Linked DNA regions of Homo sapiens. The protein of the gene in region 3 purifies or fractionates together with the protein of the main gene of each other region. This does not show direct contact. Each region holds a gene or a part of one and is shown on either strand. Other genes may lie near its edges.

Region 1 (3,656 bases), on a different chromosome or scaffold from region 3:
TTGTCCTGAGAGCTTCAGCCACACCCTTGGTTCCACTGGTCATATAGTCAGGGTGGACAGAGGCGGCGCTCTGGGAAGGGACTCTCCAGGGCAACTCGCACATCCTCCTTTCCCCTTGGCTGCACTGTTGCAGCTGCCCATTGGCATTGTGTCCATAGACGGGACCGCAGCCCGTTCAGTGGCCATGGTCCTTCCATCCCCCGTGAAAACAGCCCCAGAGTGGGACCCGGAGCCTCTGCCCTTCCCCAGAACCACCCTGCCAGCAAAGGGCAGAACAAGATGACATCAGCACAGGCCTCTCTGTGTTATAGCCCTGGGCACGAGCTCTCAAGACACACCCCAGGGTCCTAGAGGAGAGTGCCAGCCTCCCATGACAAAGAAGGCCAAAGTGTCCCTCCTCATCCTAGAAGATAATCTAATTTCTATTTGAAATGAGCAGTCCCAGCTGGGCGCGGTGACTCACGCCTGTAATCCCAGCACTTTGGAAGGCCGAGGTGGGCGTATCACCTGAGGTCAGCAGTTCGAGACCAGCCTGGTCAACGTGGCAAAACCCCATCTCTACTAAAAACACAAAAATTAGCCGGGCATGGTGGTACATGCCTGTAATCCCAGCTACTCAAGAGGCTGAGGCATGAGAATCGCTTGAACCCAGGAGGCAGAGGTTGCAGTGAGCCGAGATTGTGCCACTACACTCCAGCCTGGGCAACAGAATGAGACTCCATCTCAGAAAAAAAAAAAAAAAAAAAAAGAAATTTGCAGTCTGGGTCTCTAAAGGGTTGTGTCTTAGGGAGCCAGGGCTACAATTTGACTAGAGAGGAGGAAAGGAGAGTATGAAGAGATTTTCTCAGGCTTGTAGACAGGAAGCTTTAAAACATCTGAGCTTAGCAATAATAAATTTAAATCCACAGTCCCACATTGTGAGAAAGAAGATGTTTACATTGCACCATGGAGAGCAGGAGGAATATGTCTTAGTGGGAAGGGCCTCCCGTCTCTAGGAACGGGGCCGCTGAGGGAGGTATGGATGACTCCCCACCCAGAAAACATCCAGTGGAGTTGGGCATAAATCTGGGGTGTGCATGCACACTACACACTGCAACTGCCCACCTACAAGGGAAGACATGATGTGGATTCAAACACCAGATTTCTATTGACTTGAAAAGCTACGACGAGCCCGGTGCGGTGGCTCACGCCTATAATCCCAGCACTTTGGGAGGCAGAGGTGGGTGGATCACCTGAGGTGAGACCAGCCTGGCCAACATGATGAAATCCCATCTCTACTAAAAATACAAAAATTAGCTGGGCGTGGTGGCATGTGCCTGTAGTCGCAGCTACTCAGGAGGCTGAGGCGGGAGAATCACTTGAACCTGGGAGGCAGAGGTTGCAGTATGCCAAGATTGCGCCACTGCACTCCAGCCTGGGTGACAGAGCGAGACTCTGTCTCAAAACAAACAACAAAAAAAGCAATGATGAGTTCACAAATAGTATGATTTTGCTGATCATTTCATTTAGAGTTTTAATAAATCAGTACACTGTATTATCATACTACATTCAATCAACTTAGGTTTAAAAGACATTAAACTACACACCTGTAATCCCAGCACTTTGGGAGGCTGAGGCGGGTGGATCACCTGAGGTCAGGAGTTCAAGACCGGCCTGATCAACATGGAGAAACCCCGTCTCTACTAAAAATTAGCCGGGCATGGTGGCACACCCCTGTAATCCCAACTACTCAGGAGGCTGAGGCAGGAGAATGGCTTGAACTCAGGAGGCGGAGGTTGCGGTGAGCTGCGATCGCACCATTACACTCCAGCCTGGGCAACAAGAGTGAAACTCCACCTCAAAAAAAAAAGAACAAAAACAAACAAACAAACAAAAAAAACTAAAATCCTTGAATAGGTTTTGAATTAATAAATTCATAATTAATAAAACTGCCTGATTAACTTTATGGTATTTTTAGCCTCAGTCGAGGTTCTTCTCCTATGACCCATGTATTGTGTTGTTTCTGAACTTGGAGACTAACACACAGCTTAGACTGGGAGTGTCAGCAAGGGACTGGCACCTGAAGCTGTGAAGCTCAGTTCCGAGGAGAGGGCTTGGCAGGAGCCACCAGCTGCTTAGCCTGCTCAGAGGTGTCACTGGAAACTTGGATGTGCATTGGGTAAGCTGTGAAGGGTTACTTTTCTTTTCTTTTTTTTTTTTTTTTGAGATGGAGTTTCACTCTTGTCGCCCAGGCTGGAGTGCAATGGCACGATTTCAGCTCACTGCAACCGCCGCCTCCCAGGTTCAAGCAATTCTCCTGCCTCAGCCTCCCAAGTAGCTGGGATTACAGGCACCTGCCACCATGACTGGCTAATTTTGCATTTTTAGTAGAGAGGGGGTTTTTCCATGTTGGCCAGGCTGGTCTCAAACTCCCAACCTCAGGTGATCCGCCTGTCTCGGCCTCCCAAAATGCTGGGATTATAGGCGTGAGCCACCGCGCCTGGCCTGAAGGGTTACTTTTCTAGCAGAGCTCATAAGAGCCACTATTTCTTCCCTCAGGCACAATGCCTGGCTTAAGGATTGAAGAGGAAGGGCTCTTAAGACCCGGGTTTCTGATTTTTCTCCAAGTCAGTAGTCCCCAAACTTCTCTCTACCGGGACCTCCTCTGGAATCACATTAATCCGGGCCCCTCTCCAAGTCAGGCTGCTTTGCCTTTCCCAGTTACTCAACCAGGCTGCTTCTCAACTCCTTGGGAGTGCAGCTCCCCAAATGATCCCTCCTGAGACATTCCTCCTTTCTGCAAGTCCTCAGAGGACGAGACTTTCCGTCTGCATTTGGAGGGAAGGAGAAGAGAGACAGACCTCCTTTCTTCCTGAACAAAGATGAAGCACCAAGCTCTGGGAAAAGCTAAGCCAAGAGGCCCAACCTGGCTGGAAGATCATACAGTTGCATTTTTCGTGTGTACTAGAAATACAGAGCACTCATTAAATTAACCGAGTGAAAACCACTCCTTAGGCAATGATTAAGCTGAGAGTCAGAGGGATGGGTGGGAGGCCAGCTGTCCCATCTGAGCTGCACTTGATCACTAGGGAATTTATCATTTCTAATGCCTTTCACAAAGTCCCCTGTGATGCCCCCATTGCAGCCCCCGGGGAACGGTGAGGCAACCTGCTTCTTATGGCAGAAATATGGGACTCAGGACAGAGCAGGGGTTGTCTGGAAACTGAGGGAGAAAAACCAATATGGGGCATTTATAGCGTGAGCTCAGGCTGGGCGTGGTGGCTCACATTTATGATCCCAGTGCTTTGGGAGTCCGAGGCTGAAGGACTGCTTGAGCCCAGGAGTTCAAGACCAGCTTGGGCGACATAGAGAGACCCTCTCTGTACAAAAAAATTAGCCGGGTATAGTGGTGTGTGCTGTAGTCCCAGCTACTTGAGAGGCTGAGGCCAGGATTGTGTAAAGCCCAGGAGTTTGAGGCTGCAGTGAACTATGATGGTGCCACTATACTGCAGCCTGGGCAATGGAGAAAAAGGCAAAAAAAAAAAAAATGTCTATGGGCCTCCAGAAACAGACATAACATTTTTCTGGAGGCAGGTCGTACTGATTCCAAGGAATTCCCTAAAAAGGAATTTCCCTAAAAACGTTAAGATGTATTAGTCTAGGATGACAGGATATAG
Region 2 (3,656 bases), on a different chromosome or scaffold from region 3:
GTTATTTTGGTTTCCCCTGTGGAGCTTTTCTTGGTTTCTAGGAAACTGGAAACTTGCTTATTTGAATTTCTAGGATGATTTTTTTCATTTTTAGGTGAATGGAATCAGTGAAAATTCATCCTGACTCCCTTGATGTTTCTTTTTAAATAATCAGAAGAGCATGCAACATATATAAAATAAAAATACTTTCAACAGGTCACCAATAATATATAAGAAGTCCCAGGGAAATGGAAACAATTTTGAAATATGCTATCCAGCTGTGGCATTATCTTAAATTTTTATTCAAGTTACAGCTTTTTAATAAATGCTAAAATATAAAAGCTGCCCTGTGCTGATTAGACATATTTAATCAGCATATTTTCTTTGTTTTTAATGTTCTGCCAGTGATGTCCAATTTTATACTTTAATCCTTGCTTGTTTTAAATAGTAAAAAATATGTTTAGTCTGTGGTAAGGTACATAAGTTGTTTCTTCTCCAGAGTGAAGTCACCCTGCTGAGAAATGAAGTGGCACAGCTGAAACAGCTTCTTCTGGCTCATAAAGATTGCCCTGTAACCGCCATGCAGAAGAAATCTGGCTATCATAGTGAGTAATGTTCCATTACCTATAGCCTTAGGCTACGTCAGTGAAATACCGTCAGAGTGAACTGAGCTGCTACTTTAAAAATGGAGACTGTGCTTCTAATATTCAAGATTAAATATCAGAATTTCTGTAAGGTTATTATAGAATGCAGTAGAGAGGTATAATTTTTTAGAATCTAGAGAGTTTGAGTTTTCCTGTTTCTAGCTTTTTTCCTAAGCGTTACTATAGATCAACAAAATGGATTAGCTAATAATTTAAAATATACTGTAAGTACTTGATGATATTTTGTTCATCTTCTCAGGATAACACTTTGTCTTAGATTGACAGGGTGAAACACTACTTTTTTCCCAGCCTCCGTTCATTAATGATGATATTTTTCTTTTTAAAATCAGCTGACTGCCTTTAACAATATATGATATCCCTTTAAGGTATCAGATCCTATTGTTCTTTCTTAGATAATGTCAGCATTGTGTAACGTTTTTATTGTTGTAAACCTTTATATTGAGATATCTAGTTAGTTTATAAAAATGTTAAAACGGGAACAGTAGTTAAATTATCTGCTTGTAAATTTCCTGCTAAATGTTTTCCCAAAGAATGAGATTCTTTTGTTTTCAGCATTTTAAAGGTTAATTGTGCCTTTTCCTTTTTGTAATGTCCTTCTTTTTTGATAAGATGCACAGTGTTGGAACCAGCTGTTACTCTTGAATAAATGGCCAATTTTGTCCATAGTATACAAATTTGTAACAAACAACAGAGTTGGGAATGCATTAGGCAACATTTATAATATATAACCCACAGTTTTAGTCTTTATGATTTAGTGATATTTCAGGATATTAGTAAATGTGAAGATTGTTTCAACCATATGTATCCACTTCATTTTAATTTGCCAGTGTCAGTAATTCAAAAGAAAGAAACATTTTGTATTGGATGCAAACAGTTCCTCAGGTGCTCACGATAAAACTTAATGGCCACCATCTTTACTTGTAGTCATTATAAGCAGTTTCATCAGAATGGGCAATATTTTTTAATTTAAAAGATTCCGTAGATTTAGCTACTCTCAATTGCCATATATATTTAGAACGCTGATTTTTGTCAGTTTTGAGCATATAAATCTTGCTTATTTGATATCTAGTAATTTTGACAGGATGGTGAAACACATTGGAGTAAATTGGAACCATATAGAAATATGTTTGGGATTTATATTAACAATGATTGCTTCAGGGATGAGGCCATTATGGTTCCCATCTGACTTAACAACATAATTTCCTATAGAAGCTACTAGTTCAGCATTTATGCATACGTGATTTTCTTAACAAGAAATCTCTCTTGGATTTTCATAGTTTAAAAGGAAATAAATTGTTTTATAAAATTAAAAGGAAATTAACTGTTCTCTTAAATTGTATCCAATTCAGAATTACCTGTAATTTTTAAATCTTTGATAATTTATTAGATAATCCCAACAGTTTTGACTCTATTATCCAGGCAATGTATGCTCAGCAGATGCAAACCAGTTATTCATTTGACAATTGATTTACAAGATATCTTAAGTGTATAGATGCGTAGGTTTATATACTGTATACTTAAATGACTGAAAATCTAGATTAATACATTTTTAGTACATAGAGTACTAAGTTATGAGAATATAAGAAATGAATAGGATATGTTTGTTGTTTGGAAATAATCCTATCTTTATTCCTGTCTAGTCATGTAGATAATCAAATTAACTGAAATATAGTTCTACCATAAAATTAATTCTCTTCAGATCTTGGGAGATAATTGGATTTTGTAGAAATTTTCAGGTAATTTATATTTTCAAGTTTGAAATCTTTGAAATAAGTCTGACTTCTCTGTTGTGTAGTAGTAAAAATAGATACAGAAATTGACTAAGTGAATACCTTTGAAAAATTTACACTCTTCATTATGTTGTAGCACACAGCTCTTGCTAACAGTGGTGAGTTGTAATACTAGCTAAATCTTTAAAAACATTTGGGAATCAAAACTAAGATTTAGTAGAAATTAAGGAATGTTACAAAATCTTTCAAGTAAAGGTGGAAGTACTAAGTCACAGCCATAGGGTCTGTCCCGCCCAGTTTTAGCACTGAAAGTCCTACTTCCTAAGAAGACCCCTCAGTCGTGGGAAAACCATGACAGTTAGTCACCCCAACAGTTAAGTAATATAAAACCTGAATGAAAATACTAAGAGTACATTTTAAATATTTGGGTTCCATGAAAAATAAAGCACAAAAGTGATCTTATTGCCATGAATTCACATTCTTTAGATCTGGGCATAATTAAAGTTGTATTATAATTGTCTCTATAATTATAAATGGGAAGAAAAGCTTCTTGGGGACTAATCAACCACAAATACTTTTATTACTGAAAATATGTATAGGCCAGGCACTGTGGCTCATCCCTTGTAAGCCCAACACTTTGGGAGGCCAAGGCGGGAAGATTGTTTGAACCCATGAGTTCAAGACCAGTCTGGGTGAAATAGCGGGACCCCATCTCTACAAAAAATAAAGTTTAAAAAAGCCAGGCATTTTGGCACACACCTATAGTCCCAGCTACTTGGGAGGCTGAGGCAAGAGGATCACTTGAGCCCAAGAGTTCAAGGCTGCAGTGAGCTGTGATCGTGCCATAGCACTCCAGCCTGGGCGACAGGGAGACCCTATCTCAAATAAGGAAAAGAAACTTGTGGACATAGGTAGAGAACTTTCAAGATTACTGAATTGCCAAACAGCTGGTTTCTTTTAGCTTAGGTAGAGCTGGAAGTGGCTCTTTGAGTACAGCATGGTTTTCTGTATCTCTCTAGTGCTTGTGATTACACCAGTCATTTTCTCCCCTCACCTAGAACTGGACATAGGTGCAAATATATCACATTGTAAAGGTATTTGATGTGTATGTAAGGTTTATAATTACATAATTGTGAGTACCTGATTCTTTGTACTGCTTAAAGATTTGCTTTACCTAATTCTGAAAGTCTGTAGGTAAGCATTCATCCCTTATAATTTACTGTTTCATTTTAAGTTGTTGACTCCAGTATGTATTTACGTTTCCTTATACCACTCATCACAG
Region 3 (2,943 bases):
GTAAGTTTTTCGTTTGTTTGTTTGTCTGTTTTTGAGATGGAGTCTTGCTCTGTTGCCCAGGCTGGAGTGCAGTGGCGTGATCTCAGCTCACTGCAACCTCTACCTCCTGGGTTCAAGCGATTCTCTTGCCTCAGCCTCCTGAGTAGCTGGGATTACAGGCATGAGCCAACACACCCAGCTAATTTTTGTATTTTTAGTAGAGACAGGGTTTCACCATGTTGGCCAGGCTGGTCTTGAACTCCTGACCTCAAGTGATCCACCTGCCTTGGCCTTCCAACGTGCTGTGATTACAGGTGTGAGCCACCATGCCTGCCCATGATATGTAAGTTATACTTCCATAACATTGCTTTAAAAAAAGCAAAAAATGGGCTCTTGTTTTATTTGGAAATCTTTAATTATAAACCTTTGATTCTTTTGGAATTGATTTCGGTATAAACAATGCAATACAGACCCCCTTTCATTTCAATATCCTGGCTGTTCTAAGCGGTAACCCACTGGAAAAAAGTCCATGGGAATAAAGACTTCTAATCTTATATTAGGGATCTGACACTCACCCGCTTCCTGCTAACCTCTAGCCCCTCCCCTTACCTCAATGGCTTGGTGGAGAGACTTGTCATATTTCTCAATGAATTCCCTCCGGATGTTGAGCAGGTCAATCTCACTGCGGGATACCATGATCCTGGTCAGAGTCTTCTCATCTGTGCCAGCACCCTGGTGGAGCCAGGCAGGAGGGAGACACAGGCGGAAGGAGAGATAGAGCCCAGTCAGGCAAGAAACAGTGGTATCCCATCTGCCTTTCTCCCTTGTTCCTTCCAAAAACAGGGCGGATGTTCCACCTCTGTCTTCTGCAAACAGTCCTGACCAAAATCCCTCTGTGCCCAGGACTGGCCAGACTGACACGCAAAAAAGATGTGTGTGGGTTGAATAGTGTCCCCATGTCCACCTGGAAACTCAGAACATGATGTAATTTGGAAATAAGGTATTTGCACATGTAATTAGTTAAGATGAAGGCATACTGAATTAGATTGAAGCCTAAACCAATAACCAATATCTTTAGAAGAGGGAGGGCACAGACATACACACAGAAAAGTGGCTAGGTGAGGACAGAGGCAGAGACCGGAGTGATGCATTCACAGCCAGGAAACACCAAGGACTTCTGGCAACCACCAGAAGCTAGGAGAGGCAGGGGAGTGCTTCTCCCCCAGAGCCTCCAGGAGGACCCAACCCAGGCGACACCTTGATTTTGGGCTTTTGGCCTCCAGAACTATGAGAATAAATTTCTTTTGTCACCCAATTTCTGGAATGTGTTACACCAGCCCTAGGAAACTACCACCGGGCCCAAGGAGCAGGCACAGGGCATGGAATGTGTGGGCAGCCAGAGCTGCCTCTGCCCCCAGGGAGCGACAAGCACCAGCCTAGGAGTCAGAGCTAGGTTCGAGTCCCAGCTCTGCCTCTTAGGAGCTATGTAAATGTGGGCAACGTTTTACCCTACCTAGGCCTGAGTTTCCTCCTCTATCAAATGAGGATGCTACCACAATTTCACAGGACTGCCATGAGGGTCAGCTGTGGTCAGAGAGATGAAGCCCTTGGCACAGGCTTGACACATCGTGAGTGCTCAATGAATGGCTGTCACATTTGGAGACTGTAGGGTGAGGGTCTCAGGTTCCTTCCTACCCTCCCACCTGCCCAGGCTATCTGCAGTTGAGACTCCAGTGGCTGAGAGGGTGGCCAGTGTGGCTTGGGCTCTCCCAGAAGGGCAGGACTAGACTCAGAGGGGAGCGCTTGTGACCTTTGATGACTATTTGTCCTAGGAGACCCTGTGTCCCCGGATAGATTGTGAGCTCTGAGAGGGCAGAGACTGTGTCCTACCCAGCCCTGTGTGCCTCCAGAGCACATTTCTCAACCTTGGCATTTGGGGCTGGATAATTCTTTGTTGCGCAAGCTTATCCTTTGCACTGAGGTTGTTTAACAGCATCCCTGTTCTGTCCCCACCAGATGCTGGTAGCAACAATCTCCAAGTTGTGATGACCAAAAATGTGTCTGGATATTGCCAAATATCCTCCGGGGCGGGGGAAGGCGGGGGAAATCACCCCCAACTGGGAAATACCATCCTAGAGCCAGACAAGGGCAGATGCTAATAAATGTCAAATGGGAAGAAACAGCTGCCAGGAATCCTGATCTGGGGGATGGTGCACATCTGTGTGTTTGTGTGTGTATGTAAGTCAGTGCTTGAAGGGAAAGGAACGCCAGCATGTTTTCTTACCTTCATGGATTTGTAAAGTTTGTCGGCAAAGAAGAGAGGCTTGTTCTTGACACTTTGAACTGGTAGGAAGAGCAGAGAGATGCGGGGAACGTGGTCAGAGGCTGTGAACCCAGACTCTGGACCGGCCTCCCCCATCTCCCCACCTCGTCTATCCCTGCATGGGTCTGCAGATCATTGTCAACCCCAGGGTCATGCTCAGACGACACCTTTGCTCCCCTTCCCCATGCTTCCTCCTCTGGCCCATCCTTAGGCCTGGCTCTCAATTGGTTGCAACTCTCTTCCTTCTAAGGTGCTTACAGCTAACCAAGGTCAGGAGAGGATTCAAAGGTAATTAACTCCTCATGAACCCAAGGCACGGGGCCTCAAATTTTTAAATGCATTGGAATCACCCAAAAAGCTTGTTTAAAACTCAGGGTTTAGGCTCCACCCTAAAGATTCAGATTTTGGAAAGATTTTGAGCAGTGGTTCTCAAAGTGTGGTTTCCGGACCAACAACATTAGCATCACTTGAAAACTTGGAAGAAAGGCAGATTCTCATGCCTCAGATTCCAGATTCCAGAGATGCTGAATCTGAAACTCTAGAGGTGAGTGACCAGCTTGTCCTAGTTTGCCTGGGACACTCCAGGTTTTATTAGGTTGGTGCCAAAGTAATTACAATTTTTGCCATCACTTTCAATGGCA

The links.
Region 1: the proteins of ANXA6 (region 3) and CD9 purify together in Homo sapiens (co-immunoprecipitation; one study listed by IntAct). This does not show direct contact.
Region 2: the proteins of ANXA6 (region 3) and ATF2 purify together in Homo sapiens (co-immunoprecipitation; one large-scale study listed by IntAct). This does not show direct contact.

Annotation. Positions count from the first base shown.
Region 1 is NC_000012.12:6,206,772-6,210,427, reverse strand, and holds part of CD9 (CD9 antigen), read right to left. Parts: intron 1-3,656. UniProt on the Homo sapiens protein: Integral membrane protein associated with integrins, which regulates different processes, such as sperm-egg fusion, platelet activation and aggregation, and cell adhesion.
Region 2 is NC_000002.12:175,077,588-175,081,243, reverse strand, and holds part of ATF2 (cyclic AMP-dependent transcription factor ATF-2), read left to right. Parts: intron 1-478; coding exon 479-584; intron 585-3,656. UniProt on the Homo sapiens protein: Transcriptional activator which regulates the transcription of various genes, including those involved in anti-apoptosis, cell growth, and DNA damage response.
Region 3 is NC_000005.10:151,102,982-151,105,924, forward strand, and holds part of ANXA6 (annexin A6), read right to left. Parts: intron 2,323-2,943; coding exon 2,264-2,322; intron 712-2,263; coding exon 589-711; intron 1-588. UniProt on the Homo sapiens protein: May associate with CD21. May regulate the release of Ca(2+) from intracellular stores.